2 separate regions of the Homo sapiens genome follow, and region 2 is linked to region 1. The links come from fine-mapping of genetic effects on gene expression. A gene starts in region 1. The other region holds a variant in brackets. All regions are shown on one strand. Distances are between the middles of the regions. Region 1 holds the start of TMEM125 (transmembrane protein 125). Region 2 has its middle 6.5 kb from the start of C1orf210.

The links. PIP is the estimated chance that this variant, and not a neighbour inherited with it, causes the effect.
Region 2: its variant is fine-mapped to the expression of TMEM125 in ovary (GTEx, PIP above 0.99).

The regions. Positions count from the first base shown.
Region 1 is chr1:43,267,760-43,272,144 of GRCh38, forward strand. It overlaps TMEM125 (transmembrane protein 125), which reads left to right and starts at 2,224. Exons shown (of 4, transcript NM_144626.3): 1 at 2,224-2,326; 2 at 2,922-3,034. RefSeq lists an enhancer at 1,855-2,358.
Region 2 is chr1:43,289,927-43,294,311 of GRCh38, forward strand. No RefSeq gene overlaps it. Among named protein-coding and RNA genes, the nearest start is that of C1orf210, 6.5 kb to the left of the region's middle. The variant C/T (reference allele first, on the strand shown) is at 1,764.

The DNA of each region.
Region 1 (4,385 bases):
AGCCCTGTGAAGAGCCTGCCTTTCCACTTGACTCCAAGTTACTTGATAAGACCCAGAACTAGAATAGAGACTTGCCCAATCAATGTTTAAACCAACGAAGCTTTTAGGTGTTGTTTCTCCCATCCAAAAATTTCCCTTCAAACCCCTAAGGGAAGGGGTAAAGGAAGGAAAATTTCATGGGTCCCCTGCTGCAGCTCTGCCTGGGACAGCTGGCCCATGGGTCTGGCTGGGACTGGACCTGGGGACCAGGGTGGGTAAATAAATGTCAGATGTGTGCAAGAGGAATCTGCAGCCAGCAAGCCCTGTTGGGCCCCTGGCTCCCCTGCTCCTCTGAGTCAAGCCCCTTTATTATAAAGGGGATACCTTTATAATGCTTTGCAAATTGGCAGGATGAACACCTGCAATGCCACACCACTGTCTCCCCACCCCACTCCGCCCAACCATCCTCCTGATCCAGACTGCACTGACCTTTTTCTGAGGGAAAGGACATCTAAAGCCATGCCATCCAGTAAGGACACAGCCACATGACAGATGTGGTGCCTGGGCATTTGCAGTGTGGCTGGGATAAATGAGATGCTCTGTAAGTATAAAATAATACCTACCAAATTTTCAAGACTTTTGGTTCACGCCTGTAATCTCAGCACTTTGGGAAGCCAAGGCAGGAGGATCGCTTGAACCCAGGAGTTTGAGAACAGCCTGGACAACATAGCGAGACCCCCATCTCTATTTTTAAAAATAAAAATAAAATACCCTGTACAAAATAAAACTGTAAAATAGCTCATCAATAACATATATAAAAATGTGTTTTGGAATTAAAATGTATTAATTTAAATGTATTAATCTCATGGGTTTCTTTTTCATTTTTGAATGCAGCTATTAGAAAAGTTTATATATGTAGCTCACGCTATATTTCTTTTTTCTTCCCCGTGCCCCAGCCCCCGCCCGCAGACGGAGCCTTGCTCTGTCACCCAGGTTGGAGTGCGATGGCACAATCTCGCCTCACTGAACCTCTGCCTCCCAAGTTCAAGCAATTTTCCTGCCTCAGCCTCCTGAGTAGCTGGGATTACAGGGGCCTGCCACCATGCCTGGCTAATTTTTGTATTTTTAGTAGAGACGAGGTTTCACCACGTTGGCCAGGCTGCTCTTGAACTCCTGACCTCGTGATCCGCCCACCTCAGCCTCCCAAAGTGCTGGGATTACAGGCGTGAGGCACCATGCCCGGCGGCTCAGGCTATATTTCTAGCGGACAGGGCTGTTCTAGAATTATGACTGGCCTCCAGTCATCTCCGCAGAACAAAGCAAAGAGATGCGAAAGCAGGTCGAGCACCATTATTTTGTGAACTGATAATAACAAGATAAGGGTGATCTTGTTTTTCTTTTCTAGTTCATACACATCAGGAGGAGAAAGCAAGAGACATCACAGGGGCTGATCCAGGAGATGAGGGACAGCCTACAACAGCTCCAGCCAGCCTGCCCTTCACCAGTCCGGAGGGTGGTGTGTGTGTGGTGCCAGATTTGCCTATTAGAAGCTCCCACCATGTCCCTATTAAACTTTAGAACCCTCCATGGGCCCCTTACACAGCCCAAGTGCCTCACTATGGGCCTTCAAGACCCTGAACAGCCTGAGCCAAACTTGTCTTTCCAGCTTCCTCTCACATGCTTCCTGCTCAAAACCCCCACAGCTGTCAGTTCATGCTATCATTTAGTCTGCTAATCAATCATTCAACAAATATGTATTGATTACGTCCTACATACTAGCTACTGAGGTCATGATGATTAGCAAAAGAGGCACTGTCCGTCTGCTTGCTGGGGACCACACATCTAGCAGGGAATGACAGGTAAATACATAATAGGCAATTAAGCATATTGCAGTAAGAGTAGTTGTTGGGGAAGCACAGGGGCCATGGGTGCACCAAAGAGGCACCTCTAAACCAGCCTGCAAGTCAGGGAAGGCTTCCTGGAGGAGGTGGCATCTCAGTTGAAGAATGCAAGTTGCCCAGACTGAGGCTGGGGAGTGGCAAATATCCCAGGCAAGGGAGAACTCTTGAGTTCAAAAACTGGAAGGGCAGAGAGGAGGGCAGGGTGCCAGTGGCAAATGACTGGCCTGGTGTATATGGCAGGGGCTTTATGAGCCTTGTGAAGGAGTGTGGCATTTCTTCTGAAGTGTTTATTCTGGGAGTTCCTGTCTCCTGCCTGAAAGGCCTTCACCCCTCCTCCCTGTTCACTCAAATCCTGCTTCCCCAGTAGGATCCAGTCTGTGGGGCTCATTTGAGGGAGAATGAGCACGGGGCTTTTGGAGGCTGCAGCCTAGGGCCAAGGGATGGAGGTACTGGGGCTGTGTTTGGGGGTCCGCTGATGTTGGAATTTGGGGCTAAAGCTGGGTTTGAGGTTGGCGTTGGGTTTGGGGGCTGGATTCAGGAACAGGAGTCGAGGTTCGGGCTGAGCGTGAGGTTGGGATCTAGGACCTTAGTCCAGAATTTGAGTTGGAGTTAGGAGTTGGGGGCTGAGGTTTCTAGCCAGATTAGGGGTTGGATTTGGAGTTGGGACTGGAATTGAATTTGGAAATGGGGCTGGGGGTTGGGGCTGAGATGTGACGCAGGAGCTGGGGCAGGGGTGGAAGCTGGGAGTTCTAGCTAGGGTTTGCAGCTGCAGCTAGAGTTAGGGGTTGGTTTTGAAGCTGGAGCTAAAGCTAAATCGGGGTCGGAGCTGTGGAATGGGTTGGCGCCCAGGCTCTGGGGCAGATAGACGACATTCCTCCTGCTGCCCAGGTCTGCGAATTGTGTTCCGAGCCCTAACTGCAGCGGACAGAAGCCCCTCCCTTCACAGGAATGCCTCAGCCCAGCAGAAGGAGCAGTGCCACGTCAGCCAATCGGCTCAGGCCCTGCCCTGGAAACGACACCTGTTCATCCTCCTCCCGGCAGGCTCACCTGAGTGCAGGTTAGGCAGGTGAAGTGTCTCCCCGGAAACCAAGCTAGAGTGCCCCACCTGCTCGGCCCTGCCTTCTCGGATCGGATCCAGCACATCCAGGCTTCTCGTGAGTTCCCCCATTGTCCCCCAACGCCCCACCGCCCCCATGTTCTCCCACTCGCTTCTCCCCTGAGAACCTCCACCCCGCCCCCAGCCTGACACCCGTTGTCTCAGCACACCTGTGCAAGCATTTTCAGACCAACGAAGTCACAGCCCAGGGGAATGCTGGGACTGACTCCACGGCCACGCCCACCTCCCCCACTTCCTTGAGAGCATCGGCACCAGCCCCCGCCCACCTCGGGGGTAGGGGTCAGCCTCTGCAGAGGAGTCTCCGGGAGGACAGATACCTCGTCAGGATGTAACCTGTGCACGGCCACATAGTAATATTCCCAGAATGACCCAGGACCTACGTCTTCTGCCCTGTCCTGCCTTGGAGGGGTAACATCGTTTTCATGTATTCAAAAAGCACGCTTTGAGCATCTATGCAGGCTCTAGGCCCCACTGGAATTCTGAAACGAAGATGTCAGGTGACTCATCCCCACCCCTCAAGATAAATGTTATTGTCTTCACTTTTCAGACAAGGAGACTGAGGCTCTAAGAGACGAACCATTCAGGCTTCCTGGCCCCTCCCCCAGACCCCTCTCCTGGGCTCTGCAGGGCTCTGGGCTGACTAACCCACACCCACACTTAGCACAGGCACTGGCCTGCTTGCTTCTGTCTCTGTCTTCTGCTGCAGACTGGGGCTCCTTGAAGGCAGGGACCTCATGTGCTTTATTTTTGCCCAATGTGAGACATGCTTTCCTCTGGAGGACAGGTTAAATCAGCAGCCACTGTTAGGTGCCTGGCCATGTTCCTACCGGTGGGAAGGACTGGAGCTGGGGTTCAAATCCAGAGCCCTCCTTTTTCCTTTGCTCCACTTTAGAGAAATCGTGGAGGAGGATGGCATGGGGGAATGGCGAGTGTGGAGAAGAGCAAGGGGAGCAGAAAGACCAGTGAGGAGGTGGAGGCGGGAGCCAAGGATACGAGAGCAGGGAACTGGCTAGAGAAATGTTTAGAGGTGGAGCCCCAGGGACAGGACGTGGATTAGATACAGCAGAGGGAGGAGGAGCTGGCTGAGAGGGCAGTGATGCCATGCCTGAAGTGAGGAACGCAGAAGGAACAGGTTGGAGTAAGACAACGAGCTTGGGTTGGGACCTGTTGCATCACAGGGACATCAAGGTGACAATTGACTCAGGACGGAGATGTAGGTTGGAGAGAGGAATTTGGGAACTGGCAGCTTATATTACCAAACTCATGGCTGTGAGATTGGATGGGATGTTAGGGGAGGGAGGGTGTTAGGGGTCTGGTCCTAACCCACAGAGAAGGAGGAGACACAGCCCTAAAAGAGAAGTGTCAAGGTCAGTCAGGCTTCTGGTTCC
Region 2 (4,385 bases), 22 kb after region 1:
AATGAGAGCAGGTTTTTTTTGTTTTGTTTTGTTTTTGTTTTTGTTTTTGAGATGGACTCTTGCTCTGTCGCCCAAGCTGGAGTGCAGTGGCGTAATCTCAGCTCACGGCAAGCTCTGCCTCCCGGGTTCACACCATTCTCCTGCCTCAGCCTCCCAAGTAGCTGGGACTACAGGCGCCCACCACCACGCCCGGCTAATTTTTTTGTATTTTTAGTAGAGACGGGGTTTCACCATGTTAGCCAGGATGGTCTTGATCTCCTGACTTCGTGATCCACCCATCTCAGCCTCCCAGAGTGCTTGGATTACAGGTGTGAGCCACCGCACCCAGCCAAGAGCAGTTTTACGAGACAAGAGAGTGTTCTGGGGACAACTGCCTGATTGGAGTGAAGCATAAGTATGGGACCAGAGGAAGTGGAGACCACACCTCCAAGGAGTTTTGCTATAAAAGGAGCAGAGACATGGGACTGACACTGGAGAGGGGTGTGGGACTAAGGGAGGATTTTGCTTTAAGGGGAGGAGCTGTTAGACCATGTGTGTAATGCTGGCCAGAATAAGCCAAGAGAGACTGGAAATTGATGATGCAGAAGGAAGAGAAGGGACAAGGCAAGTGTGGAGTCCCTGAGGAATCGAGAGGGTGGGGTCAAGTGCACGGGGAGGGTTGGCCTTGGACAGGAGCAGCAGAGTCCCTCTGAGTCAAAGGAGGAAGGTGGCTTAGACAGGTAAAATGCACTAGGTCTGTGATGGGAGCCTTAGGAAGCTTTCCCCTGATGGCTTCTGTTTTTCCCGAGAAATAAGAAGCAGTGTCCTTAGCTGAGTGAACAGCAGGAAGGGGGTGCTGAGGCTGAAGAAGAGAAGAGAAAAGAAGGTGTGAATTCATCACCCCAGAGCGTGGCAGAGAGAATGGGCCCAGGCGTATAATGGGCTTGCCAGACAGCCTCAGGCCTCCTTTAAGGTAGATGGGCATGGTCAGTTAGGGTGTCTGAGTTTTTTCCTCTTCTAGTCCCTCCAAGTGCAGGTGGGGAGAAGATGGAAAGACGGGTTTCACCAAGATTAGGGATTTGCTGGGCAAATATGATAAAGCAAGAAGGGAGTGGGCAAGGGAGCTGAGCTGTAGGCAAGGGAGTGGTTGTAATGATGGCCCACAGTATCTGGTCAGGTTAAAGGGGGAAGTGGGTACAGAGGGGTGCAGAGAACCCAAAAAGGTGGTAGGATCGATGGATTTTAGGATGGGTTGCTGGTGTACTAGAGAGAGTGAGTAGAAAAAATAGAGAAACAGGAGGTGGTGGGCAGATGGTGGCAGAAGGAAATTGAAGTTACACGAGGGATGCAGTTTTGTTTTGTTTTTGGGTTTTTTTTTTTTTTTTTTGAAACAGAGTCTCACTCTGTCACCAGGCTGGAGTGCAATGGCGTGACCTCGGCTCACTGCAACCTCCGACTCCCTGGTTCAAGCGATTCTCCTGCCTCAGCTTCCCGAGTAGCTGGGATTACAGGCACGCGCCACCATGCCCAGCTAATTTTTGTATTTTTAATAGAGACCGTGTTTCACCATGTTGGCCAGGATGGTCTCTATCTCCTGACCTCGTGGTCCACCCACCTCGGCCTCCAAAGTGCTGAGATTACAGGCATGAGCCACTGTGCCTGGCCTGCAGGTTTTGTTTGTTTGTTTGTTTGATTGATTTAAGAGACGGAGTCTCACCTTATCCCAGGCTAGAGTGCAGTGGCACGATCATAGCTTACTGCAGCCTCTGTCTCCTGGGCCCAAG[C/T]GATCCTTCCGGGTAGCTGGGACTACAGGCTTGTGCCACCACGCCCAGCTAATTATTTTATTTTTTGGAGACAGGGTCTTGCTTTATTGCCCAGGATGATCTCAAACTCCTGGCCTCAAGCTATCCTCTCACCTCAGCCTCCCAAAGTGCTGGGATTACAGGCCTGAGTCACTGCGCCTGGCTGCATGCAGTTGTTGACAAAGACAAGTCCTAGGATATGAACGATGGAGTGGTCCCAAGGTGCAGTCTACAGACCAGTGATGGTTTTGCTCTTATCCAAAGCACACGATTAACTCAACCTTCAAAATCAGAGGTCTGTAGATAACGTCTGAAAAACTCTGTTAATCAGTGGCAGAGCCAGAATCCAAACTCGGGCTTCTGACTCTCAGTCCAGCACCTTTTCAGTGGCGCAGCAGCTAAGTTCCTCTGCTCCTATGAGTGAAACTGATCATCCAGGTGTTGGACTCCTCAAAATCTTTGGAGTGACACATCGCAATCACTTCCTTTAAAAAAAAATGTGATTATATTTCCTAAGAAAACTCAGGATGCTGCCACCAGAAGATCAGGGAATGGGTGCTGAGCAGGCAAAAAACCGAGGCGCCCTAGCCCCTCCCCACACCTGCTCCCTTCTGCATCAGACACAAGCCCTCCCTGCAGCAGATGGGACTTCTAGCCTGAGGGCCTTCGCCTTAGGGTAGCTGCAGAGCCCTTCTGAGAAGCTGATGAATGCAGGAAAATGCATGTGTGCACCCAATCACAGATATGCTCACAGGCCGGATGCTAATAAGATGCTCCACAAACACTTATTGGATGAATGAATGGTTAGAATTCCAGGCAACTCACTTGCTCGCTCCAGATTAAGAACTGGTGTTATGGGCTGGGCGTGGTGACACACGCCTGTAATCCTAGCACTTTGAGAGGTTGAGGCAGGCCAATCACTTGAGCTCAGGAGCTGGAGATCAGCCTGGATAACATGGCAAAACCCCGTATCTACAAAAATAAAAAATTTTTAAAAAAATTAGCCAGGCATGGTGATGTGTGCCTGTAGTCCCAGCTATCAAGGGGGCTGAGATAGGAGGATCGCTTGAGCCTTGGAGGTCGAGGCTGCAGTGAGCTGTGATCGCACCACTGCACTCCAGCCTGGAAATGAGACTCTGTCTCAAAAAAAAAAAAAAAAAAGGAACTGGTGTTAACACTTTCCACTCTGTGTACAGGGACCTCTGTTCTGTTGTAAGCAGATGCCCCTTTTGAATCGGTAGAGGACACCTTCCTTCTCTTTGTAAGCCTCTGGAGGAAGGCTGCCCATTTCCCAGGCTTCCGGCCTCTTCCAGCCCCAGCCTCCCAGAGAGGAATTAGCCCCTTCTTGGGACTTAGGACTGTCCTTAGGGACACCACACTCTTCCTCCTTCATTCAAACTCCACCTTCCCAGAAGGCTGCCTTTCCCTATTCCTAGTCTGCCCTCCCTGACCTCCTAGACATGCCCTGGCATTGGAAGTCCCACTGAGGGCTGTGCTTGAAGCTTGGTGAAAACGAGCCCTCTGAGCCAGTTATCCCTAAGAAGTCACAGTTCCCTGAGTCAGCTCAAAGGATCTATCCTCAGTGGAGCTTCCCAGGAGACTGAGACTAAGGAATGTTTTGAGACACATCTTCTAAGGTTTCCTCACTTCTTCAGGAGGAGACCAGCCTATCCAGGGCCATGTATGCCATGAAACCCTGAGGGCGAGAGCTCACCAATCCTCATGGGTCACCAACCACACCACCCTGAAACTCCAGTGTGATTATGTCATGGAGCTGCCACATGGGATCTAACCTCAGGTTCATGGGACAATTTCTTCCCAAGCCACCAGCTCCACCTCACTACATCTGACCTAGGAAGATAATTAGATATCACACATGCATGGTGTAACGATGGCAGTCTATGAATCCCCTTGGTTATTATCTCTGGGGTAGCCAGGTCTCGCAAGAACAGAGCTCAGCAGGCCTGCCAGGGACTACCACACCCTCTCCTGAGGATGTCGTGTCCATGCAGCTGGCCAGAGGCCGTAGACCCACTGGACAGAGCTGCCCCACCACGCTGCCCCTCCCAGCCCTGCCTGCCTGGGCCCCAGCAATACCAACGGTCATCTCTGCCACATTCTTGCTTTCTCATGGGGGCCCTGTTAGAAACGGGAAGGGAGGAAAGCTGGTGCCCACCTGAGACCCCCAGCTCTGAGACTCCAGGGGTGTTGGAGCAGTTCCCATAGAGAAATCCTCTGGGGGCAGGCACCACTTAAGTCTGTAGGAGAGGTCTCTCCCCAGGGGAGCAGGAAGCCCACACCTGTGTGCTGGTGCCATAGTTCACTCCAACTCCCCAGTGGGAGCCAGTGTCCCTTCCTTAGGGTGCGGGCAAGGGTGGAGCTGGCAAAGCACCAATATGCCTTCAGGGAGAAAGGGCTAGGGAAAGAGGAGTTGAGACACTGCCTTCAAGCCTTTCCTCATCATCCCTGTGTCACCACGAAATAAATCATGCATCATGAGCACTAATGGACTTGTGTTGTCACTACCTCTTATCCTCAAAGTAAGATTGAAGCCAGGGGTGGTAGCACACACCTATAGTCCCAGCTACTCAGGAAGCTGAGGTG